Homo sapiens: one gene and its partners. The protein of the gene in region 7 purifies or fractionates together with the protein of the main gene of each other region. This does not show direct contact. Each region holds a gene or a part of one and is shown on either strand. Other genes may lie near its edges. The genes, in order: POLE, DICER1, PFAS, DCTPP1, LRPPRC, ZNF99 and DUSP26.

Region 1 (2,540 bases), on a different chromosome or scaffold from region 7:
CCCAGCCTCCAGACCACAGTGCCATGGGCAGGATCTCAGGAGAGGAAGGGGCTGTGAGAAGCGCCTGGTGACGGGCGAGTCTCCTGAGTGCAGCTGCACGCACTCTGGCCTCCCACCTGCACTTGAGCCCTTCCTAGGACAACATTCCGAACATGGTGTGGGGAGGCCTGGGAAGGGGCCTGTTGCCAATCCATGTGAGTCAGAGGGGCAGCAGGTGTGACCCACAGAGCTGGAGCTGCAGAAGCCCTCAAGACACCGCAGTGCCCTCGGATGTTCTGCTCCACAGTGAAGGGCCCGCTGGAGCTCAGCCGCACCTCTGAGAAGGAAGAGTCTTTACACAGGTCCAGGTCGCGGCAGAAGTTACAGCTGCGGCAGATGACCTCAGGAAGCACGTAGGAGCGGCAGGGGTCTCGGAACTGGGCCTCCTCGGAGAACTCGCCGACATCCACCAGGCGAAGCAGGTCTCGGTTCAGCTTATTCACCTGGTTTGTGATGTTGGTGTCCAGGGACAGCACCTGCAGAGACCACAGCCCACATCGGGAAGGAGCTCCCGGGGCCTCCCTGCTGCTCTGTCTGGACCAGAACCCTCTGGACCTTAGGCTACAGTTTCCTGGTGTCCTTTCCTCCCTTCCTTAGTCCCTTTAGACGCCTCAGCTGACTTCTCTACATTAGCAGTTTTCCATCGGTGAGGACAGGCTTCCCTGGGGAATTTACTAAACATTTAAGGAAGAAATGCTGCTGATTCTACACAGTATCTTTCAAAACACTGAAGAGAGAGAGCACTCAACCCATTCTATGAGGCCAGCATCCCCTGATACTAGAACCAAAGACCGTACTAAGAAACTACAGACCAATAACAGCCTGAGCACAGACACAAAAATGCGCAACGAGATATTAGCAAATTGAATGCAAGATCGAAAAAAAGAATACATAATCCAGAAAGAGACTCACATAGATAAGGTTACTAAGTTATGGAAAAAGGTACAAAGATGATTCGATAGAAAAAGAATAGTCTTTTCAACAAATGGTTCTTGAATACAAGCGTATCTTGGAGATATGGCAAGTTCGGTTTCAAACCACCTCAATGGACTAACATCACAATAAAGCAAATCACACAAATTATTTGGTTTCTCAGTGCATATAAAAGTTACATGATTTTTGGCTCACGCTTGTTTTCTCAGTACATATAAAAGTTACGTGATTTGTGGTGGCTCACGCCTGTAATCCCAGCACTTTGGTAGGCCAAGGCAGGTGGATGGCCTGAGGTCAGGAGTTCAAGACCATCCTGGCCAACACAGTGAAACCCCATTTCTATTAAAAATACAAAAATTGGCTGGGCATGGTGGCGGGTGCACCTGTGATCCCAGCTACCTGGGAGGCTGAAGCAGGGAATCGCTTGAACCCAGGAGGTGGAGGTTGCAGTTAGCCAAGATTGCACCACTGCACTCCAGCCTGAGTGACAGAGTGAGACTCCATCTCAAAAAAAAAAAAAGCTATGTGATTTTTTTTATTTTGGGACAGGATTTCACTCTGTCACCCAGAATGGACTGCAGTGGCACAATCATGGCTCACTGCAGCATTGACCTCTTGGGGCTCAATTGATCCTTCTACCTCAGCCTTCCCAGTAGCTGGGACGACAGGCATGCGCCACCATGCCCAGGTAATGTTTGTAATCGTTGTAAAGATGGGTTTTGCCATGTTGCCCAGGCTGGTCTTGAACTGCTGGGCTCAAACAGTCAACCCACCCTGACCTCCCAAAGTGCTGGGATTACAGGTGTGAGTCACTCTACCCAGACAAAACTTAGGTTTACCCTATACTGTAGTCTATTAAGTGCATAACAGCATTATGTCTAAAAAACAATGTATGTACCTTAATTTTAAAATGTTTTATTGCTCAGAAATATTAACGATCATCTGAGCCTTCAGTGAGTCGCAATCGTTTTGCTGGTGGAGGGTCTTGCCTCAATGTAAACGGCTGCTGACTGATCAGGGTGGTATTGCTGAGAGTTGGGGTGGCTGTGGCAATTTCTTAAAACAAGACAACAATGAAGTTTGCTGCATCAACTGACTCTTCCTTCCATGAAAGACTCTGTAGCATGTGATGCTGTTTGATAACATTTCACCCACAGTAGAACTTCTTTCAAAATTGGAGTCGGTCCTCTCAAATTCTGCTGCTGCTTTGGCAACTAAGTTTATGGAATATTCTCAATCCTTTGTCATTTCCACAATGTTCACTTTCATCTCAAGAAACTACTTTTTGGCCAGGTGCGGTGGCTCACGCCTGTAATCCCAGCACTTTGGGAGGCCGAGGTGGGCAGATCACAAGGTCAGGAGATCGAGACCATCCTGGCTAACATGGTGAAACCCTGTCTCTACTAAAAATACGAAAATTAGCCAGGTGTGGTGGCGCTTGCCTGTAGTCCCAGCTACTCGGGAGGCTGAGGCAGGAGAATGGCGTGAACCTGGGAGGGAGCTTGCAGTGAGCCAAGATCGCGCCACTGCACTCCAGCCTGGGCGAGAGTGCGAGACTCCATCTTAAA
Region 2 (3,500 bases), on a different chromosome or scaffold from region 7:
TGGAAAAGCTGAATGGTATTTCATTGTATGAATATACTGCATTTTGTTTATCCATTCATCTGTCCATGGCCACTTGGGTAGCTTCTATCTTTTGGCTACTGTGAATAATGGTGCTGTGAACGTAGGTATACAAATAATTCATTGGAGTCCATGCTTTCCCTTCTTTTAGACATATACCTCAAAGTGGTCACATTGTTTCTTGATCTTCAAAACACTAGACTAGACTCAGAATTTATTGCAGTATGAGTTTTCTCAGGGTTCCTCCAAGCAGTGATAATTTCCTACAAACAACTCCTCTGTCAGTAAAATCTGTAATCTCTCTGAAGCCCAGGGTCGACTCCTTTTTACGATCTTGGTTCCAATCATAGTGTCTGGCAGGTATTCAAAAAACTGATCAAACATGGAGTGATGTGCTTTATTGAATGCCAGAGGAAGATATTGGTGAGGTCTTTAATTTGTATAAAGAGAAAGTTGGAGCCAAGTGACTTATTTTGTTTACCTTTTGCTGTGCTTTTTGGACATTCAAGAGCTTAGTTCATCCTGAAAGCCCAGTGTATGTATTATACTCGCTCTTATTCACAGGTTTCTTTGCAATTTACGACTTGCCAAATGACTAGTCTTCTGAGGCAGCATTATTTTCTTGGTATTCCACCTCCTTAGCCTGTGGGGCTTGGACCTTTTGATTTTTTGATGGCTAGTTTTCACTTCTTCCAAATTTCTGCTAAGACTCTAGTATTAGTACATTTATTTAATAGTTTATGATGTCTATTTTGAGAAAGGATTTGAAATGGTCTTATAATAGGAAAGTATTAGAGTACTATGAAAATGGTAAAGGTTGGTAGTATAGAATGTGGAGGCAGAGAATTAGATGAATGATTGGGGCAAGGAAAGGTGAGTGCTGCATGTAACTCACGTTGATTAATGAAAGGAAGCATACCAATTTGAAGCAGATTTTTCTCTTGTATGAAGAATAATCAATCTTTTGGATTATTACATTAAATAACATTAGCAATATATGGAGAAAATGTTTTACATTTTACAAACGATAGAGAAACATTTTTTCACATGCCATTTTAGAGAAACTGGATAAAAGCCTCAGGCATAATAGAAAAGCTTTAGTAATACAGGTGTTCACTGTTCCAGTGGTTTGATTCATTAATTTCTTTTGGGTGGTGTCCCTCGAATATCAGTTGTCTCATTCAGGCTGTTGACAGATGCTAAATAACAATCCATTCAGGAATAAGCTCTGTGGACAACATGGGCAGTGAGGATTTTCCAAATAGGAATTCTCACCCAGTCTTTTTTTTTTTTTTGAGACGGAGTCTCACTACGTTGCCCAGGCTGGAGTGCAGTGGTGCGATCTCAGCTCACGGCAAGCTCCGCCTCCTGGGCTCATGCCATTCTCCTGCCTCAGCCTCCCGAGTAGCTGGGACTACAGGTGCCCGCCACCACACCCTGCTAATTTTTTGTATTTTTAGTAGAGATGAGGTTTCACCGTGTTTAGCCAGGATGGTCTTGATCTCCTGACCTCGTGATCCTCCCGTCTCGGCCTCCCAAAGTGCTGGGATTACAGGTGTGAGCCACCGTGCCCAGCCCTCTCACCCAGTCTTTAGGAACGTGTGTTGGTCTAAAAAGTAAGACTGGTTGTATCGTGGTGTATACTTGATGAATTAATACAGAAAGAAAAAGATTATTTTTGAGATGTAGCTGGTGAAATTGACATTTTCAGTTATGTAATAAAGCCTTTGTTAAAATAATTCTGAGTGCAAAATGGCTTCCTCATCTAAAATTGTCAATGAATTGTTGGTACTCCTTTAACATGCAGTTACCTCAATATGCATTTTAAATAAGTGACTAAGAAGATGCTACAAAACATTCTCTGAGGATGTCAGTAAGACTGTTACTAGAAGTAAGACATGACAGGCTTAAGTTTGGCCTTAGAGTTTTTTCTTTTTGTTTTTTAGGCTTATAACAGCATTACATGTTCTTGGTTGTGTTAAGGTTTATGGAATAGTAAGGATTAGATTCTTCATGCATGTTCATTACCAGACATGGTGCTTGACATATAGGAGACACTCCGATTTGTTGAGTGAGTAAGTTAATTTATAATACTTTTTGAAGTATTTAGAAGCTAACACAGTTTTGTGGGGAAGAATATTGCTTGCATATTAAGGCTTTTAAAAAGATTATTACTATTCTGCTTTTGGACAAATCATGCTACTTGGTCCTTTTTGCTTTGTGAGGTACGTATGATTATGTGCACAGAAACATTGCAGACTGAGGGAAGTGTTAAGAATCGTGGGAGAAAATCGCCGTCAAAATTGGAGTTTAACTGTATTGCAGACTTTCTCCTTGTTGGCACAGACTAACTCTGTTGTGCTTGTTCGTTCTTTGACAGCTCAATGTATGCCATAAAGCAGGGGTTTTAACAACACATTTGAACAATTCTTGAGGATTAGAAAATGAGGTCTGTTAACCAGTTCAGAATTTTAAGAAAACAAACCGGTTGTACTTAGAGAACTTGAATAATGAGAGAAGACTCTTAGTTTAAAAACTGATCTTTGACATGATGTAGGAAGGTTCTTTGATTAAGAAGTTAAATGACCCTGTTTGAAGGGAAAAAGAAAGGTAGTAGTCGTATTTAGTCGTATTTAGTCCTCTGAGATGTTTCGAGATTGCAGGATTTCTGTCTTTCCTCTTTTGGTAACATCCTGGGAGGTGAGATTAACATGATGAACTCACAGCCTGTCCGCCTCTTATGCATCCTGCTGCCCAGCCATCACTGTCAGTTGCTCTGATTCATGGTATTTTAAGTTCTTTCCACTTTGCAGAGTTAAATATTAATGTTTTATCATAGCTTTGTAGGGATGCTTAAGAGCAAGTGTTTGGCGTCAGAGAGACCAGGGTTCAAATCCTGATTCTTCGACTTTATAGCCGATGAGCACTGGGCATATGGCAACGTCTCTTGAGTCTCAGCTTCCTTGTCTATAAACTGTCGTAGTGGTGTTTGCCTCTTGAGGTTTTGAGAAAAAAAAGGAGTTTCTTAAACTCTCATGGTACATAACTAGCATTTGATAAAATTAATGTAATATTTTTCTTTTAAATACGTGTATTAGAGAAAATTTTAACATGCAATAGTCTTAATGTGATTAGATTATATTGTGAGCCCCCAAATTATCAATATTGAAATGTATGGTCTAGTAATATAATGGAGGATGAAGGAAAAGAGGGCTTGAGAACAATATTTTACAGACAAGTTTTCGAGGAGGATTATCTATACTGGTTCAGCTATCTTAGTTGGTCTCTGTAGTAGTGATACCAAATGTAACAGTGCCTTAAACGTCTCTTAACTTTCCCTAAATAACACATTCTTCATCTGCTATGCATGAATTAACACATCATCCTTGAAATCATACTTCAATTCAGTGTATAAAGCCAAGTGTTTTGTAAAATAAACCTCAAGTTAGGTTTTATGTTTCCTTATGATTAGATTCAGGTTT
Region 3 (3,500 bases), on a different chromosome or scaffold from region 7:
CTCAAAAAAAAAGAAAAAGAAAATAAATAAATAAATAAATAATTTATGACATGATATCATCAAGCAATAAATTCTTAAACAAAAGCTTTGTGATCAGAGATCCTTTTTTGTTTGTTTGTTTTTGTTTGTTTTGAGACAGAGTTTCACTCTTGTTGCCCAGGCTGGAGTGCAATGGCTCGATCTCAGCTCACTGCAACTTCCGCCTCCCGGGTTCGAGTGATTCTCCTGCCTCAGCCTCTCAATTAGCTGTGATTACAGGCACGCATCACCACGCCCGGCTAATTTTGTATTTTTTTTAGTAGAGATGAGGTTTCACCATGTTGGTCAGGCTGGTCTGGAACTCCTGATCTCAAGTTCTCACTGTGTTGCCCAGGCTGGAGTGCAGCGGCTTGATCACTGCTCACTGCAGCCTCCGCCTCCCCAGGCTCAAGTGATCTTCCCACCTCAGCCTCCCTAGTTGCTGGGACTACAGGCACATGCCAGCACACCCAGCAAATTTTTGTATCTTTTTTGAGAGAGATGGGGTTTTTGCCATGTTGCCCAGGTTGGTCTCGAACGCCTGTGCTCAATCCTCCCACCTCAGCCTCCAAAGGGCTAAGATTACAGGTGTTAGCCACTATGCCCCGCCCAATCTGGCCTCTTCTTATAAGGGCAGATTATAAGAGGTTTGGTGAGATTAGTAGCTCATTCTTGAGAGTTCCACTTTCATGACCTAATTACGTCCCAGAGGCCCCACCTCCAAATACCATAACATTGAGGATTAGGGTTTCAATATATGAATTGGGAGGGGGAGATACACAAACATTCAATCCATGGCTGATACCATTTCTCTCAGGAAATTTTTCCTGACACCTGAAGTGCAGGATTGGTGTCCACAGTCCCCTGACCTTCACCACACGGGACTGGAAATGTCTGGGTACTTGGCCTTTCTCCCCCAATAAAATATAAACCCTGTGAGAGCAGACAGAGTTTCTGTCTTGATTCACAGCGGTGTTTCTAAGACCTTGACTGGGGCCCAGCAAAGTGCATGTACTCCAGGAACACGTGTCAGGTGTGTGCCTGTACACCTCCCTACCACATTAATAAAGACCACATTTTGCAAGATTCCTTAAAATCTCCAAGGTTACATTTTTCAGGTTACCTTGTTTCTCTAAATGTCCATATTACTTTCCCCTACCCTATCCATAACGCCGCAATTTTCCTTGAAATCTGAAATCAGTTCAACAGATAGGCCATAGTTAATGTTATTTTTATTTTATTTATTTATTGAGACGGAGTTTTGCTCTTGTTGCCCAGGCTGGAGTGCAATGGCGCGATCTCGGCTCACTGCAACCTCTGCCTCCCGGGTTCAAGCAGTTCTCCTGCCTCAGCCTCCCTAGTAACTGTGATTACAGGCGCCCGCCACCACACCCAGCTAATTTTATATTTTTAGTAGAGACAGGGTTTCACTATGTTGGCCGGGCTGATCTCCAACTCCTGACCTCAGGCAATCCACCTGCCTCAGTCTCCCAAAGTGCTGGGGTTACAGATGTGAGCCACCACGCCCGGCTTAGTTAATGTTATTTTTTAGGAACCTAATTCATCTCTCCAGCAAAGGACACATCTCTCCAGCAAAGGACACCTCTCTCCAGCAAAGGACACCTGCAGAGATGTCCCCAGTCCTTCACTTCTATGTTCGTCCCTCTGGCCATGAGGGGGCAGCCCCTGGACACACTCGGAGGAAACTGCAAGGGAAACTGCCAGAGCTGCAGGGCGTCGAGACTGAACTGTGCTACAACGTGAACTGGACAGGTTGGGCCCAGGTATTAGATTCTTGGGGGACATGCCTCGGTGCTGGGGGCAGTGTCTCAAGGTGTCCTTGCCCTGTCTCCCTGCAGCTGAGGCCCTCCCCAGTGCTGAGGAGACAAAGAAGCTGATGTGGCTGTTTGGTTGCCCCTTACTGCTGGATGATGTTGCTCGGGAGTCCTGGCTCCTTCCTGGCTCCAATGACCTGCTGCTGGAGGTCGGGCCCAGGTAAGTATCTCATCCTGCCCACCCCTTTCTTCTGCTTTCCTTTGCTTCCTCTTGTGATCCTTGGGAGATTTGCTTTTCCTTTGCTCTTTGCTACTTCCTGCCTAGGAAACCACACATGTGCTTTCCCCATTTGGGTAGATCCCTCCAAAGACCTAGCCTGCTCCAAAACATGTTCTCAAAGCAAAATAAATTAGATTCCAAGTTAAAATCAAACAGTTTTGGCCAGGCGCGGTGGCTCACGCCTGTAATCCCAGCACTTTGGGAGGCCGAGGTGGGGCAGATCACGAGATCAGGAGATTGAGACCATCCTGGCTAACACGGTGAAGCCTCGTCTCTACTAAAAATACAAAAAATTAGCCGGGTGTGGTGGCGGGCGCCTGTAGTCCCAGCTACTAGGCAGGCTGAGGCAGGAGAATGGTGTGAACCCGGGAGGCAGAGGTTGCAGTGAACCGAGATCACGCCACTGCACTCTAGCCTGGGCAACAGAGCAAGACTCTGCCTCACAGAAAGAAAAAAAAATCAAATAGTTTTGATGCTAGAGGACAGTTTTGGTTTGGTTTGAGTGTACTTTAAAAGCAGGTTTCTTGTTGCCCAGCCTGAGGCTGAAAGCCAATGGTGAGGGGATAGCGGTGGGAGGTTGTCCAGACAGCAGTAGGCAGGATCCACCCTCCCAGCTGAGGCCTGCCGGGGGTTCTCCAGTCCTAACCATCAGGCCCATTGTTCAGGCTGAACTTCTCCACCCCAACATCCACCAACATCGTGTCAGTGTGCCGCGCCACTGGGCTGGGGCCTGTGGATCGTGTGGAGACCACCCGGCGCTACCGGCTCTCGGTGAGGTGATGGGGAATCAGGAGGAGGAGATGAGCCAGAGATACAAGATTAGATCCTAAGCTCTAGAGAGAAGCAGGGACAGGTGCTCCTGGCTTTAGGCCTGCTCTGTATGGTCGTACAAGTTGTTCACTGCCTGAAAGTACCTGGTTGAGGGGTAAATGGGGCAGAAATCCAGCCTATGCTTCCTTTAATTTGTGCATCCTGGCATGGATTCATACCTGGAAAGGGCGTCTTTTTGTAATCTGAGAAAAAGTGCCATATGGTGTGGCAGTGGGCTAGCCTTGCATGACTAAGAGGGTAGGAAGGTGGACCATTTCTCTCCATTCTTAAACTCTTCACCCCTTGCCCTCTGTGTGTCTGCACCCCTAGTTTGCCCACCCCCCGTCAGCTGAGGTGGAAGCCATTGCTCTGGCTACCCTGCACGACCGGATGACAGAGCAGCACTTCCCCCATCCCATCCAGAGTTTCTCCCCTGAGAGCATGCCGGAACCCCTCAATGGCCCTATCAATATACTGGGTGAGGGCCGGCTTGCGCTGGAGAAGGCCAACCAGGAGCTTGGTGAGTAGCTGGGGAGGGAGATGTAGGGTCCAGGATAGGCCAGTAGGGGTGCTGAGATCTGGAATGTGGCTGCCTGAGTTCCATAGTCACCTCTTCC
Region 4 (3,939 bases), on a different chromosome or scaffold from region 7:
TGATCTCCTAACCTCATGATCTGCCCGTCTCAGCCTCCCAAAGTGCTGGGATTACAGGTGTGAGCCACCCCGCCCAGCCCCTTTTTTGTTTTTTTTTTTTAAGGCAGAGTCTTGCTCTGTCGCCCAGGCTGGAGTGCCATGGTGTGATCTTGGCTAACTGCAGTCTCTGCCTCCTGGGTTCAAGCGATTCTTGTGCCTCAGCCTCCTGAGTAGCTGGGATTACAGGCGCCCGCCACCATGCCTGGCTAATTTTTGTATTTTTAGTAGAGACAGGGTTTCACCATGTTGGCCAGACTGGGTCATCACCTTGTGTTCTTTTCCTCATAGAACTTGTCATAATTCCAGATCTTCTAATATGAGATTACTGATTTACTGTCAATCTCCTTCCACTGTGAAGGTGGAAACCTTTCTGCCTTGTTCCAGGCCATATCTCAATTCTAGAAGACCTAGCACATAGGTGATGTTCATAAATCTGTCATGAGGCCATGTGCAGTGGTTCAACCTGTAACCCCAGTGCTGCGGGATGGTGAGGCAAGTGAATCACTTGAGACCAGGAGTTTGAGACCAGCCTGGGCAACAACAGCGAGAGATCCCATCTCTACAAAAAGTAAAAATAAATTAGCCAGGCTTGGTGGTGGCGCACGCCTGTAGACCCAGCTACTCCGAAGGCTGAGGTGGGAGGATCGTTTGAGCTCCTGAGGCTTCAGTGAGCTATGATCACACCAGTACACTCCAGCCTCAGCAACAGAGTGAGACCTTTTCTCTTAAAAAAATGACTGTCCTGGTCTAGGGCTCATCGCCTCTTGCCTGGTCTACACCAGCCAACTCTCTGGTGTCCCCTGCCCCATTCTCTCAGTGATCCATCCAATCCACCCTGTAGACACAGTGACCTTTCCAACACTCATATCTGGTCAGGTCTTCTGTCCAAACTCTCCATCATACTCTAGCCCTAATCATATCTTTGTGGGTTCAACTCCCACCCCTCTCCTCCACAGCCCTATCACTCATCCAACGTGTGCCTATTGAGCGCCTACTATGCGCTGGGCACTTGGGACACATCAGAGAAAACAGATCCCAAATCCCTGATTTTTCCTGAGATGCTTACAATGAAGGAGCGTCAGATTCTCCCTGAATTGAACTTGCCCTTTCTTGCCTCACTGCCCCTGCAAATGTAGTTCCCATGTCTGGAATGCCACAGGCAGGTCCTCTACAGAATACCTTCCTTTCAGCCCCAGAGGCAGAGGAAAAGGGTTGTTGGGCCAGGCGTGGTGGCTCACCCCTGTAATCCCAGCACTTTGGGAGGCCAAGGCGGGTGGATCACCTGAGGTCAGGAATTTGAGACTAGCCTGACCAATATGGTGAAACCCCGTCTCCACTAAAAATACAAAAATTAGCCAGGCGTGGTGGGGGGCACCTGTAGTCCCAGCTACTCGGGGGGCTGAGACAGAACTGCTTAAACCCAGGAGGCGGATGTTGCAGTGAGCCGAAATTGAGCCACTGCACTCCAGCCTGGGCGACAGAGCGAGACCCCGTCTCAAAAAAAAGCCAAAAAAACAAAAAACAAAAGAAGGGAAAAGGGTTGTTGCCACTGCTTCTTCCTAGACGGGACCTGTCCTGATGCTTTCACACCTCACACCTCTCTCTTCCAGGAGGCTGAGTGCCCCTAGAGGGCAGGGACCCGTGAGTCCTCTCTGCATCCCAACAACAGCAAAGAGCCTAGCAATCAGGAGGGGAAACTGAACCCATGAATGTTTGAAGACCAAATAAATGCTCCCCTCCCCTCCCCCACAACTCAGACTCTACCAGGAAGCTTTCCATCTACTCACAAGAGTTCTGCCAGCTCCCCCACTTCCCCAACCAAGGCCAGGAGGAGATTCCGAGGCTGATGGAACTGTTCCCAGTCTCGTTCCGCAGCAAACTCAGCATGGAGGCGGCGGCTGAAATAGGACAAAGGAGTGTAAGTCCAAGTCTCCGGGTTAGAGGGTGATGCAGGGGCCAGAGGCAGCTACCCCCGTAGTATGTAATGGGGCCTGGGACCAGGAGATTCTGCAACTAATTCATTGGATGGTATTGTGCAGGTCATTTCCTCTTTCCGGAACTTGGTTCCCTCATCTATAAAATGGGCGTGCCCCTGAACTGCCCTTAACATCTCGCCAAAACTAACAAAACCCTCTTCATTATTCCATCTCCTGCTGCTACTTCTGCAGTTTCCTCCACCTGGAATCGCCGCACATCAAAATGCAATTTCTCTTACAGAAGGTAGTTCCACAGACCCTTCCTCTAAGAAGCCTTTCTTGACCTCCTCCAGCAAAAAATAACGTCTCCCACCTCTCAGCACTTCGTTTGCCCCTCTCGTACCCCCGGCGCCTGGAGAGCAGAGGCGGTATCTGGTGCCGGTATCTTCCCAGGGCTAGGCTGAAGGGCGTTCCTAGTTACCACTCGGAGGCACCACCCAATTTCCCTTGCCTCAGGTGTGCACCGCTGCGCCCATTTTGCAGATGAGGTAAGAAGGCTCACCCAGGGACAGCCCACAGAGCCAGGACCCGAGCCCCGCTGCCAGCCCGCTTCCCGACCACGTGGAGGAACCCTCCCCAAAACGCGGGAGAAAGGGGCGACTTCCCCACCCCGAGCTGGGCCAGGCCTGCTTACATGTCCTCGAGCGTGGGCTCCGGGCTGAAGCTGAACCGGCCGGGAGCAGCAGTGTCCTCTCCCCCCGTGTCCCCACGAATCTCCCCACCGGCCACAGACATGCCGCCCACCGCTGCACCGCGACTTCACGGAAAACCCACGAGCCACGCTCGAAGCCCCGCCTCCAGAGCTCCGACCAATTACGGGAGTTCTCTATTGCCTCACGGGGCGGAGCCTGAGGAAAGAGACCAATGACTTTTGTGGAGTTTGCTACAGCCCTCCCCTTCCCTCACTGGACCAATCTGAGGGAGCTTCAAGCGCGCGTTTCTAGTCTTAGGCCCTGGAATTCTTCCGCTAGGCCCTGTGTCTAAAGGTAGAGGTACCAATTCGACCTGGGGAAGAGACGAAGGGCAGAGGGTGGGGGAAGCGCAGGCGCGTCACTTCGTTTATGGGCGCCAGAGGGCGCCAAAGCGAAACGGCAGCGGAAGAGGGCCCGTCAGGTGGAAAACCCTATAAATGAAAGGCCCTATGCATAGGTATTAAATCAGGGCTTAAGGACGTTGAGAAACCTCGAGGCCAACCCCCACACTATTTGGATGGGATTGAAGGGGAAGAGCGGAGTAAGATCAGACGGCAGTAGGACTTCAGCTCCCCGCCATCGCTGTGTCCTGTGGTTGAAACGATGGAGGTCGCCCCATCCCTGTCCTAAGGGAGGCAGTAGGCCCCAGCGCAACGTACATTGCCCTGAAACACGTGGCCCCTTATGGTCTGGCCTGTGCCGGCCTCTCCAGCCTCATGGGTCCCCAGCACGGCTCCTCCACCCCACACACGAGAACTCCAGGCTCCACTCACACCAGGGAATACGCGAGGTGGCGAGTCACAGGGTTGCTGCTTTCAAATCAGAACCACTGAGTTATTGGCCATGGGAGGAGCAGAGATCTTTATGAAACCCTAGAACAGGTGTAGTCTTGCAAAGAATGATTTATTATTGTACCCTTATTAGGGCTACTATCTCTGATTTCCACGTTTAAAGAGGCTTCCAGCTTGCTGGAAGTGAAAGCGTAAGAAAGCGCAGGAAGAGGCAGAGTCAGATTTTGGAAATTAAAATCCCAAGGCTGTGACAATTGCAATTCTAGGTATATGCCCTAGAGAAATTAATGAATATGTGCAGAGAGACACATGCAAGAAGTTCATTACAGTTTTGTTTCTAAGAGTGAAAAAAATTGAAAATAAAATGACTATCAACGGAAGAATGGCTACATGGAAGTATATTTATACAAATGATATTATCCAGCAGTTAAGATTGGATAC
Region 5 (3,500 bases), on a different chromosome or scaffold from region 7:
CTTCAGAATCTATGAAGATCCCTTCCAGATACATTCTGAGATCTTCTATGTTTACTTACCTGTGAAAGTCTTTAAATCCCAAGTTTATATCATATATTGCCTTTTAAAAAATGTTTTTGTCCATAAGTAATCCCTTCACCATCTAAAACACAACAGTCTGGACCTCATTCTGCACCCAATGATAACTACCATGGCAGTTAACTGTAAACAGGAAAATGACAAGATCAAATGTGTAACATATGTAAAACACTTGTAACATATGTTGCAACATATGTAAAACATTTCAGAAACGGGAATCACGGTATCTGGAGTTGAATCTCAACTTGAGGTCTTGAATAAATTATACTTCTAACCCTGTTTCCTAATTTGTAATAACCCACGGAAGTTGAAATGTTTGTATGATGTTATGTTTACAAACACACTTTGAAAATAATAAACATCAGGCCAGGTGCGGTGGCTCATGCCTTTAATCCCAGCACTTTGGGAGGCTGAGGTGGTGGATCACCTGAGGTCAGGATTTCGAGACCAGCCTGGCCAACATGGCAATGGCAAAACCCCATCTCTACTAAAAATACAAAAATTAGCCAGGCATGGTGGCATGCGCCTGTCGTCCCAGCTACTTGGGAGGCTGAGGTGGGAGAATCGCTTGAACCTGGGAGGCAGAGGTTGCAGTGAGCCGAGATGGCCCCGTTACACTCCAGCCTGGGTGGCAGAGCGAGACTCCATCTCAAAAAAAAAAGAAAGTAATCAGCATCTATTCTAAAGGTACCATTGTTTACCCTAATCCCCAAATCTACTTTTCTTAATTCTGCTAACACTCTCACCAATCTTCTGTTCTCTTTCTCTCAAGAAACGGATCTTTTCGTCAGTTCTTTACTACCTCGTTGAAGGCCTATTACTGCTAATTTGCAATACCAGTGTTGTTCCATCCCCACGTTCCTATAATCTACATAAACTTTGTCAAAATCTGTACTTAAAATCCTCCAACGGCTTCCAATCATCAACTAACCTACCTTCTAAGCAATCTTGGTAGCCTCAAGAAATCAACTTCCACCACATCCCACACAGCTACACGGGATAAACGGCCTCCAAGTCTCTTCACGCTCTTCTCTATTTTTGGAACATTCTGAATATCCACTACCATGTGTCCTCTAAAACTCAATGTCCCCCTGCCATAAAACAAATGGCACTGCTCCTCTCTCTGAAATACCACAATATTATATTCTTCTCTTATGGACAGCACGTCTAATAGTTGTACATGTGCCTGTCTAGCCCTGTGATTGATAAATCTACACTCACAGAGCAGAGGCCGAATGTTACAGATTTCAGAACCCCAAAGGACCCATCAGGTTCTTTTTTTTTTTTTTTTTAATTGAGATGGAGTCTCGCTTCGTAGCCCAGGCTGGAGTGCAATGGCGTGATCTCGGCTCACTGCAACCTCCACCTCCCGGGTTCAAGCAATTCTCCTGCCTCAGCCTCCCAAGTAGCTGGGATTACAGGCATGGGCCACCACGCCTGGCTAACTTATGTATAGATACTTTTATTTTTTTTTTTTTTTGAGATGGGGTCTCACTCTGTCACTGAGGCTGGAGTGCAGTGGCCTGATCTCTGCTCACTACAAGCTCCGCCTCCCAGGTTCATGCCATTCTCCCACCTCAGCCTCCCGAGTAGCTGGGACTACAGGCGCCCGCCACCATTGCTAATTTTGTTTTTGTATTTTTAGTAAGAGACAGAATTTCACCATGTTGGCCAGGCTGGTCTCAAACTCCTGACCTCAAGTGATCTGCCCGCCTCGGCCTCCCAAAGTGCTGGGATTATGGGTGTGAACAATAGTACCCAGCCGGACCCATCAGATTCTTAATATTTGCAGAAGATTTTTCTAAAATGAGAGTTTTCTAAAAGTTTTCTTCCAACTTTAGAAATAAAAATCACACCATCCCATCAAAGAACAATATGTAATTTTCACCTTTAGGCCAATCATTAGTCTAGATCTACTTCCAAACAGATTGAGCTCAAAGCTTATCTTTCCTCTGAAGTATACAAGTATTATGCTAAAAACCATCACACAAAGAATACACACACAAAGCAGCTCTGATCCAGAAATGCAAGGAAAATGTATGTGACAAAGCAAGAGTATTTATCACCTCAAAGAGAACAGAGTAAAAGCTGGTTTTCCAGAAAGCATCTATTTGAAAAATAGATGTACTGAGATGGGAAAATGAAGAGCAAGACCACATATTACAAAGTAAAAGGATATACTTCTTGGTGCTACAATTTTGAAAACAGATTACTAATGTCTAATAATTTCACTCACTAATACTCATTTGTCCTCAAATAGGACATTCCTGGAAATCAAGCTCAGGGTGAATTTGTGTAGACACACTGCACTGCATGGGTGGGTTAAGCATCCCTTCAATCTCCTCCAGTTTACCATATTCCTTCTTCAATGTCTTAAGATTTTCATTGATTCACTCAACAAACATTTGACACCTACTATATGCCACAAAGTTAAACACCAGGGAAAGCAAAAGGAGTAAGACACAGTATCTGCCTTCAAGCAACTTACAGCCAGCTCCAGAGTGTTGGTGAGTGCACGTCATAGTGTTAATGGGTGCTTTAGTGATACACGGTCTAAGAGGAGGCACAAGAAAGGAGCCAGTCAAATGGGAGAGGCAGTCAAGTTAAGGTTCAACAGAGATGGGGGACACCTGACTAAGGGGGAAGGGGAGACACATTCCAAGAGTCAACATTACACTCAAAGGCAAGGAAATATACAACATGGCCCATCAAAGCCTTACAGATCCACAGACAAGCACTAGACCTACAAAATCAGAATCTGCAGTTTAACGAGAGCCCCAGGCAATCATGCTCACTAGAGTTTGAGAAGCCCTGCTGTAGAGCACTTCAAAGTAGTAGTCTGGTACGGCTAGAACGCAGGATGCCATGGGAGGGAACTCAGAAGAGTTGACGCTCCAGAGGCAACTCCAGCTCATAAAGCACCTGTGCTAAAGAGTCTGGATCTCCTTCTGGACCCAATGGGAGCCACCACAATGCTTAAGTGTAAGCAGGAAAATGACATGATCAAATTATCAGGGAGACTAGGGAATGATGAAGGGGCTGGAGGAAAAGGGATGCATTCCAAATGAAGCAGATCTAACAGGGCTTAATCATTTGTGCAATCAATAAATGGGGGGTGAAGGGAGTGAGAGATGAATGGGAAAACAAATATGTAGATATCCAGGATCTTTCTGGAAGGCAGGTAGAAACAGCAACATTCACGAAAATAGGGAACACAAGAGGAACAGATGAAAGAAGAAGGAGGGGTCCAATTTGAGCTGTGTTGGCTCTGAAGTACCTATAGTTCAAGCAGGTGGATGTGTAGTAGATGGTCCATATCTGGGAGAAACATCATCAGATAGGTAAGTAATGCCCTGAAAAATGGAAAAGGTCACAAAAGAGAATGAAAATGTTGAGAAAACACAGAAGGACCACGAGTAAAA
Region 6 (4,218 bases), on a different chromosome or scaffold from region 7:
AGTGCCCCAGGTAAGAACTTTTCAAGTTCTTACACCATCTCATTGGGGTCACTTTTTTTTTTTTTTTTTTTTTTTGTCGTTTGGGACACTATTTTTGATTTCACAGATTCTCACTATTTTTCTTTCACTATTTTTTCATTATATTTCACTATTGTTCTGCTCCCTTAAAGAATGCAGGGGGCAGAAATTATTTCTGTGTTTTCCCCGCAATACCAGCATCTGATTGGCTGACCAGCAATGTGTCTTCAAAAAATGGAAGCTGGGTTGGGTGAAGACAATCTTAATGTCTCAAGGGTTAGCTTTTCAAAGGAAGAGTATACCAGGAGAGACCTCTCAACCCCAGGGCATCTGCCTTCTTCGTTGAAAGGCTACACTCCACACCTCAGGTTGTCCTACTGGAGAAAATGACCAGGAGCTGATATTCACTAGACACTCTAGCAGACATAGCCATGGGGAATATTTTAGCTAATTCCCAGACAGTACTGAAACCCAGGACCAGGGAAAAAACTGAAGAATGGCTGAAAACACATCATAAAGTTTCCAAAGGAAAACCTTTACCTTTACCCCAAAACATTCTGCTAAAATCTGTGGAGCAAGGAGGAAAAAAAAAAAGCGGCACAAAGATTTTTTACAACACAGTGTCAGGGGATTATTTTTTGCTTTCTTCTCTTAGGAAATATTCACAAACAGAAAACAAATATTATGAAAAGTACCATCCAATGCTTTGTTAAAAAATAAAATACAGTATCAAAATGTACACTAAGGACAAATAGTAATGTGAATCAGAGAGGGAAAATTGACATTATGAACTGGAAGTTTAGTATTTTATTGCAAGCCAGAGTTAGGCTGCAGGAATTGGGGTTTGGGAGTAGACATAATACTCTGCTTGAGATACCTGTAAAAAATGGAGGGGAAAATCAGTCATCTGAGGAGTGTGAAAATAATTAAAAATAATTAAGTGGCAGGCAAATAGACTGAGGTGGCTCTAGTGCCTGATATCTACTTTTTTTTTTCTTTTTTTTTAAGACAGTTTCGGTCTTGTTGCCCAGAATGGACTGCAATGGCGCGATCTCGGCTCACCGCAACCTCTATCTCCCGGGTTCAAGCAATTCTCCTGCCTCAGCCCCACGAGTAGCTAGGATTACAGGTACAGGCATGTGCCACCACACCTGGCTAATTTTTGTATTTTTAGTAGAGATGGGGTTTCTCCATGTTGGTCAGGCTGGTCTTGAACTCCCGACCTCAGGTGATCCGCCTGCCTCGGCTTCCCAAAGTGCTGGGATTACAGGCATGAACCACCGCACCTGGCCTTTTTTTTTTTTTTTTTTTTTTTAATATGAGAGGGAGTCTCCCTCTCTTGCCCAGGCTGGTGTGCAGTGGCGCAATCTCAGCTCACAGCAACCTCTGCCTCCCGGGTTCAAGCGATTATCTGCCTCAGCCTCCCGAGAAACTGGGATTACAGGCATCTGCCACACTCCCGGCTAATTTTTGTATTTTTATTAGAGACGGAGTTTTACCATGTTAGCCAGGCTGGTCTAGAACTCCTGACTTCGTGATTCACCCGCCTCGGCCTCCCAAAGTGCTGGGATTACAGGTGTAAGCCACCGAGCCAGGCCTGATAATCTACTTTTTAAAAAATCTAATTCGGCCGGACGCGGTGGCTCATGTCTGTGATCCCAGCACTCTGGGAGGCGGAGGAGGGCAGATCACCTGACGTCGGGAGTTCGAGACCAGCCTGACCAAAACGGAGAAACCTCGTCTCTACTAAAAACACAAAAATTAGCCGGGTGTGGTGGCGGATGCCTGTAATCCCAGCTACTCGGGAGGCTGAGGCAGGAGAATCGCTTGAACCTGGGAGGCGGAAGTTGCGTTGAGCCGAGATCGCGCCACTGCACTCCAGCCTGGGCAACAAGAACAAAACTCCGTTTCAAAAAAAGAAAGAAAAAAATATTAATAATTCAAGTGCTTTTTTTTTTGTAAATTACTACATTGGGGGAAACAAAATTCAGGCTTAACCAACTATAAACTACAATTAACCTCTGATTATATAAACGGGAAATTTCCATCTTGATTGTACAAATTAAGAATCTACGTAACTGTACATAACCCATTACTGAATTTGGTTTTCTTCATTATGCACCTTATAAAACTCTTTCCGTCAAATCCCTTCCATAGACCATAAACTACAAACCACAGCTGGGTGCTCTGCCATTTTTGAATCACTCTTTGATTAAATCCTTTATTACTTTAGTGATGACTGCCATCAATTTTTAATAGGAGAAAAGAGGGACTGGAAACCTCACTGGACCAAAGCTCTTCCCATTCATGAACCCGCACCCGGAGTCAGGATTCTCCCCTGACGCCCCTCCCGTGGTCCCTGCACAATCTGTGAGAGAGGAGGCGCTGCGGGTGAAGAGCGGCCCAGAGAGGGCTCCAGGCCAGGGCATAGTCACAGTGCAGGAAGGAGGCAGGTCGCCCGGGGTCCCGCAGTCAGCGCAGCCGCCATCTTATGGCTGAAGGAGACTGAGGCCGAGCTGGGCAAGAGCTCGGGGCGCAGACTGTGGAGCTCACTGAGGGGAGGCCTGAGTCCCGCCACAGCCACTTTCCACCGGTTCCAGTCAGCCCCTTCCCCTTCTCAGGATATCGGACCCGGCACTCTCACCATTTCTAAGCTTCCAGGGGGTCCTGGCGTCCTAGCTGTGGATCTCCAAATACCTACAGGTCACAGGGCCACAGAGGCTAAGGACACAGAGCAGTAAAAACGAGATCCGGAGCTCCAGCTGGAACCAGAAACAACGGCCCCGCCACATCCCACAAGCCGCCCTTTCCGCTCCAGCTGAGTGCCTGATTGGACGGTTCCCAGCCCAGAGTCCCTGATTGGATAATGTTTAAATCCCCGCCTCCTCAGGCCCTGAGTGACAGAAGATGTGATCTGATGCTGAGCTGAATGAAGAGTGACGGGCCGGGCGCGGTGGCTCACGCGTGTAATCCCAGCACTTTGGGTGGCCGAGGCGGGTGAATCACCAGAGGTCAGGAGTTGGAGACCAGCCTGGCCAACATGGCAAAACCCGGTCTCTACTAAAAATAAAAATTAGGCTGGTGTGGTGGCGGGCGCCTGTAATCCCAGCTACTCCGGAGGCTGAGGCACGAGAATTGCTTAAACTCAGGAGGCGGAGGTTGCAGTGAGCCGAGATCGCGCCAGTGCACTCCAGCCTGGATGACAGAGCGAGATTCTGTCACGAAAAAAAGAAAAGAAAAGAAAAAGAAAGGAAAGGATGACAGTCTAGGCTGCAGCCTTTTCAGGCAGGGCTTCCTTCCTGAACTGAGCCAGGCCAACCCCAGAGGGTATTTGCATTTAACCTTTTGTATAAGGTCACATTCTTTTATAAATAATATATTATATGGTTATTCACAAATGAAAAGAATATAACAATTATCTAAAATTTTCAGAGTTTATGACCTTCCTGGCTTCTGGTTTTTTCATCAGATTGCCTGAGGTTTTAAAAAGAAGGCAATCCTCTGAAATAAAATTGTATTTTAAATTTTCTAGTAGCCAAACTTTAAAAATTAAAAAAAAAAAAAACAGGTGGAATTTATTGTAGCAATTTAATTAACCCAATATATCCAAAATATCATCTTAATACGTAAGCAAAATGTAAATTATAAATGAAGTGTAGATATTTTTTGGAACTTCATCTTTGAAACTAACTCTGTATTTTACCTTTCCAGCACATCACAGTTCAGACCAGCCACATTCCAGGCACTCAGTCGCCACACATGGCCAGTAGCTGCCACATTGAAGTGCAGCTCTGACCTTAGGAGAGGGAAGGGCCTGAACAAACCTTTTCTGCCAAAGATGGAAAAAGAGCCTTTCCCTACCAACATCTCTCTTCAGCTCTGAGGGAGGAACAGATAGTAGCCATAAATAAAGCACAGGACAGCAGGAAAAAACAACCACAGGTAGACCACTGCTGGCCACCTGTTGCCTACCTTTATTCCAGAGATCAGAAGGTGAACTAAGGATGGTAAGGCCACAGGAGAAGAAATCTCTGTGTCTTCAAATCTGTGCACAGTCTTGACCTCCAATGTTTAGATATGAAGAAAATAGATTAAAGGAAAACTTACTTTTCTATTTGTCCTTGGCCCTAATGGTCAGGCTGTGGTTATCTGTTTTCTCCTGTGGTATGGGGGACTGTGTGAGTATAGGCACCAATTACA
Region 7 (3,097 bases):
CTCCTGCCTCAGCCTCCCGGGTAGCTGGGATTACAGGCACATGCCACTATACCCGGATAATTTTTGTATCTTTAGTAGAGATGGGGTTTTATCATGTTGGCCAGGCTGGTCTTGAACTCCTGACCTCAAGTTATCCTCCCGCCTCGGCCTTCCAAAGTGCTGGGATGACAGACGTGAGCTACCATGCCTGGCCTCCTGGATCCTACTATTGGCCTAAGGACACTACTTTACTTACTAGTGATCCAGAAGGGAGGAACCAAGATGGGCAATGACTTGGAGTCTTGTCCTGTGAGCCATGGTTGAAGGTATAGGGGATGTTTTGCCTGGAGAAGAGAAGACTAAGGGGATGGGGTAAAAATAGCCATAATAAAACTGAAAGTGTGCGGCCGGGCGCGGTGGCTCACGCCTGTAATCCCAGCACTTTGGGAGGCCGAGGCGGGCGGATCACGAGGTCAGGAGATCAAGACCATCATAGCTAACATGGTGAAACCCCATCTCTACTAAAAATAGAAAAAATTAGCTGGGTGTGGTGGTAGGCGCCTGTAGTCCCAGCTACTCAGGAGGCTGAGGCAGGAGAATGGCCTGAACCTGGGAGGCGGAGCTTGCAGTGAGCCGAGATCGCACCACTGCACTCCAGCCTGGGTGACAGAGCAAGACTCCATCTCAAAAAAAACAAAACAAAACAAAACAAAACTGAAAGTGTGTTTTCTGGAATTGAGATTGTCTTGGATCTGTAGGGTTCTCAAGGGTACAATGAGGATCAAGGAATTAAAGCCCCAGGGAAGCAGATTTCATTTTTTTTTTTTTTGGGAGGTGGGACAGAGTCTTGCTATGTCTCCCAGGCTGAAGTGCAATGGTGCAATCTCAGCTCACTGCAACCTCTGCCTCCCAGGTTCAAGCGAATCTCCTGCCTCAGCCTCCTGAGTAGCTGGGATTACAGGTGCCTGCCACCATGCCCGGCTAATTTTTGTATTTTTAGTAGAGATGGGATTTCATCGTGTTGGCCAAGCTGGTCTCGAACTCCTGACCTTGTGATCCACCTATCTAGGCCTCCCAAAGTGCTGGGATTATAGGCGTGAGCCACTGTGCCTGGCCAGCTGATTTCAATTTCATACAAGGAAGTACATTCTAATGGTGGAGTCTAGCTGAGGAAAGGGTGGAGAACCTCGAGAGAGAGTGGTTTTCCTGTCCCTGGGGTATTCAGGCAGAAAGAGGAGATGGCCATGTAGCCATGGATGCTGCAGAGGGGAAATGAATGTCAGGCAGATTGTTCTGCTCATTTCATCGGTCCTGCTCACTCTGAGATAGTATGGTTCTGACATCCACTTCCACACCTAACTCCCCTATGTCTCTACTCTTGTTGACACCCAGAACCGTCTTGTGTTTTTGCCAGATATTCCATGGCTCACATTTACTGTGACTGTGTTTTTTTTTGTTGTTGTTGTTGTTGTTTGTTTTTTTTTTTGAGATGGTGTCTTGCTCTGTCACCTAGGCTGGAGTGCTAGAGTGCAGTGGCGCGATCTCGGCTCACTGCCACCTCTGCCTCCCGGGTTCAAGCAATTCTCTGCCTCAGCCTCCCGAGTAGCTGGGATTACAGGTGCCCACCACCATGCCAGGCTAATATTTGTATTTTTAGTAGAGACGGGGTTTCACTATCTTGGCCAGGCTGGTCTTGAACTCCTGACCTCGTGATCCATCCGCCTAAGTATCCCAAAGTGCTGGGATTACAGATGTGAGCCACCATGCCCGGCCACATTTACCCTGTTTTATGACGTCACCTTCAGGTGTTCATCCGGCCCAGACCCCTCAGCTTGGTGGCAGACACCCCTGGGCACCACAGTCATATCTCAGGGCAAACTGAGTTGCCCTGTCCAGTGCAAACTCCTTAAGCAGAAAGAGCACTGAACTTGAGCCTCCAAGCCCGGGCTCTGCTACTTACAACCCGTGTGACCTTGGCCAGGCACAACTTCTCTGAGCTTCAGTCTCCTCATCTGTAACCCAGGGAGAGTGATACCTATCTCACAGGGCTGTTGTGAAGATTAAGAGAGATAATGTGTGTGAAAAAAATCCTTGTAGGCCAGGCACGGTGGCTCATGCTTGTAATCCCAGCACTTTGGGAGGCTGAAGCAGGTGGATCACTTGAGGCCAGGAGTTCAAAATCAGCCTGGCCAACATGGCTAGACGCCGTCTCTACTAAAAATACAAAAATCAGCTGTGTGTGGTGATGGGCGTCTGTAAGCCCAGCTACTTGGGAGGCAGAGGCAGGAGAATTGCTTGAACCCGGGAGGCGGAGTTTGCTGTGAGCTGAGATTGGGCTACTGCACTCCAGCCTGGGCAACAGTGAGACCCTGTCTCAAAAACAACAACAATGCTGGGCACGGTGGCTCACACCTATAATCCTAGCACTTTGAGAGGCCGAGACAGGTGGACTGCCTGAGCTCAGGAGCTCAAGACCAGCCTGGGCAACACGGTGAAACCCCGTCTCTACTAAAATACAAAAAAATAATTAGCCGGGCAAGGCGGTGTGTGCCTGTAGTCCCAGCTACTCTGGAGGCTGAGGCAGGAGAATCGCTTGAACCCGGGAGGTGGAGGTTGCAGAGAACCAAGATCGCGCCACTGCACTCCAGCCTGGGTGACAGAGTGATACTGTCTCCAAAAAAAAATAAAAGAAAGAAACCAAAACCAAAACAAACCAAAGAAGCAAAAGAAATCCTTGTATAACTTTGAGGGAGAGAAGTGGGGATGGCTCTTCCTTTGATGTTTTTCTCTCCATAGCCTTCAAATTGCAGAATCTCTGTAGGCACTGCCGCTTTGCTTGGTCTCAAGAGAAACCACTGCAGCTTCCTACCTACTGCTCCTGGCTTCCAGTGGCTGCCTTTTCCCAGAGACATTGCACAATAGATGGAAGGTCAGAGAAGTCATCTATTGTGCCTGGTATGTAGCACTGGCATGTAATAATAAATATGTGATACATGAATGATATTATTACTGGAACAGAGTCTTTCTGTCCAGACTTGGGTATTTTTATTTTATTTATTTTATTTTAAAATAATAAGTAGAGATGGGGTCTGGTTTTGTTGCTCAGGCTGGTCTAGAA

Evidence for each region.
Region 1: the proteins of DUSP26 (region 7) and POLE purify together in Homo sapiens (affinity purification with mass spectrometry, with the first as the bait; one large-scale study listed by BioGRID). This does not show direct contact.
Region 2: the proteins of DUSP26 (region 7) and DICER1 purify together in Homo sapiens (affinity purification with mass spectrometry, with the first as the bait; one large-scale study listed by BioGRID). This does not show direct contact.
Region 3: the proteins of DUSP26 (region 7) and PFAS purify together in Homo sapiens (affinity purification with mass spectrometry, with the first as the bait; one large-scale study listed by BioGRID). This does not show direct contact.
Region 4: the proteins of DUSP26 (region 7) and DCTPP1 purify together in Homo sapiens (affinity purification with mass spectrometry, with the first as the bait; one large-scale study listed by BioGRID). This does not show direct contact.
Region 5: the proteins of DUSP26 (region 7) and LRPPRC purify together in Homo sapiens (affinity purification with mass spectrometry, with the first as the bait; one large-scale study listed by BioGRID). This does not show direct contact.
Region 6: the proteins of DUSP26 (region 7) and ZNF99 purify together in Homo sapiens (affinity purification with mass spectrometry, with the first as the bait; one large-scale study listed by BioGRID). This does not show direct contact.

Annotation. Positions count from the first base shown.
Region 1 is NC_000012.12:132,625,803-132,628,342, forward strand, and holds part of POLE (DNA polymerase epsilon catalytic subunit A), read right to left. Parts: intron 516-2,540; coding exon 315-515; intron 1-314. UniProt on the Homo sapiens protein: Catalytic component of the DNA polymerase epsilon complex. Participates in chromosomal DNA replication.
Region 2 is NC_000014.9:95,151,030-95,154,529, reverse strand, and holds part of DICER1 (endoribonuclease Dicer), read left to right. Parts: intron 1-3,500. UniProt on the Homo sapiens protein: Double-stranded RNA (dsRNA) endoribonuclease playing a central role in short dsRNA-mediated post-transcriptional gene silencing.
Region 3 is NC_000017.11:8,252,289-8,255,788, forward strand, and holds part of PFAS (phosphoribosylformylglycinamidine synthase), read left to right. Parts: intron 1-1,570; 5' UTR 1,571-1,649; coding exon 1,650-1,791; intron 1,792-1,877; coding exon 1,878-2,013; intron 2,014-2,738; coding exon 2,739-2,844; intron 2,845-3,213; coding exon 3,214-3,403; intron 3,404-3,500. UniProt on the Homo sapiens protein: Phosphoribosylformylglycinamidine synthase involved in the purines biosynthetic pathway. Catalyzes the ATP-dependent conversion of formylglycinamide ribonucleotide (FGAR) and glutamine to yield formylglycinamidine ribonucleotide (FGAM) and glutamate.
Region 4 is NC_000016.10:30,427,231-30,431,169, forward strand, and holds the start of DCTPP1 (dCTP pyrophosphatase 1), read right to left. Parts: upstream 2,801-3,939; 5' UTR 2,751-2,800; coding exon 2,650-2,750; exon of another isoform or gene 2,625-2,649; intron 2,571-2,624; exon of another isoform or gene 2,359-2,570; intron 1,938-2,358; coding exon 1,827-1,937; intron 1-1,826. UniProt on the Homo sapiens protein: Hydrolyzes deoxynucleoside triphosphates (dNTPs) to the corresponding nucleoside monophosphates. Has a strong preference for dCTP and its analogs including 5-iodo-dCTP and 5-methyl-dCTP for which it may even have a higher efficiency.
Region 5 is NC_000002.12:43,989,490-43,992,989, forward strand, and holds part of LRPPRC (leucine-rich PPR motif-containing protein, mitochondrial precursor), read right to left. Parts: intron 1-3,500. UniProt on the Homo sapiens protein: May play a role in RNA metabolism in both nuclei and mitochondria. In the nucleus binds to HNRPA1-associated poly(A) mRNAs and is part of nmRNP complexes at late stages of mRNA maturation which are possibly associated with nuclear mRNA export.
Region 6 is NC_000019.10:22,781,352-22,785,569, forward strand, and holds the start of ZNF99 (zinc finger protein 99), read right to left. Parts: upstream 2,801-4,218; 5' UTR 2,666-2,800; coding exon 2,663-2,665; intron 1-2,662. UniProt on the Homo sapiens protein: May be involved in transcriptional regulation.
Region 7 is NC_000008.11:33,593,927-33,597,023, forward strand, and holds part of DUSP26 (dual specificity protein phosphatase 26), read right to left. Parts: intron 1-3,097. UniProt on the Homo sapiens protein: Inactivates MAPK1 and MAPK3 which leads to dephosphorylation of heat shock factor protein 4 and a reduction in its DNA-binding activity. Inhibits MAP kinase p38 by dephosphorylating it and inhibits p38-mediated apoptosis in anaplastic thyroid cancer cells.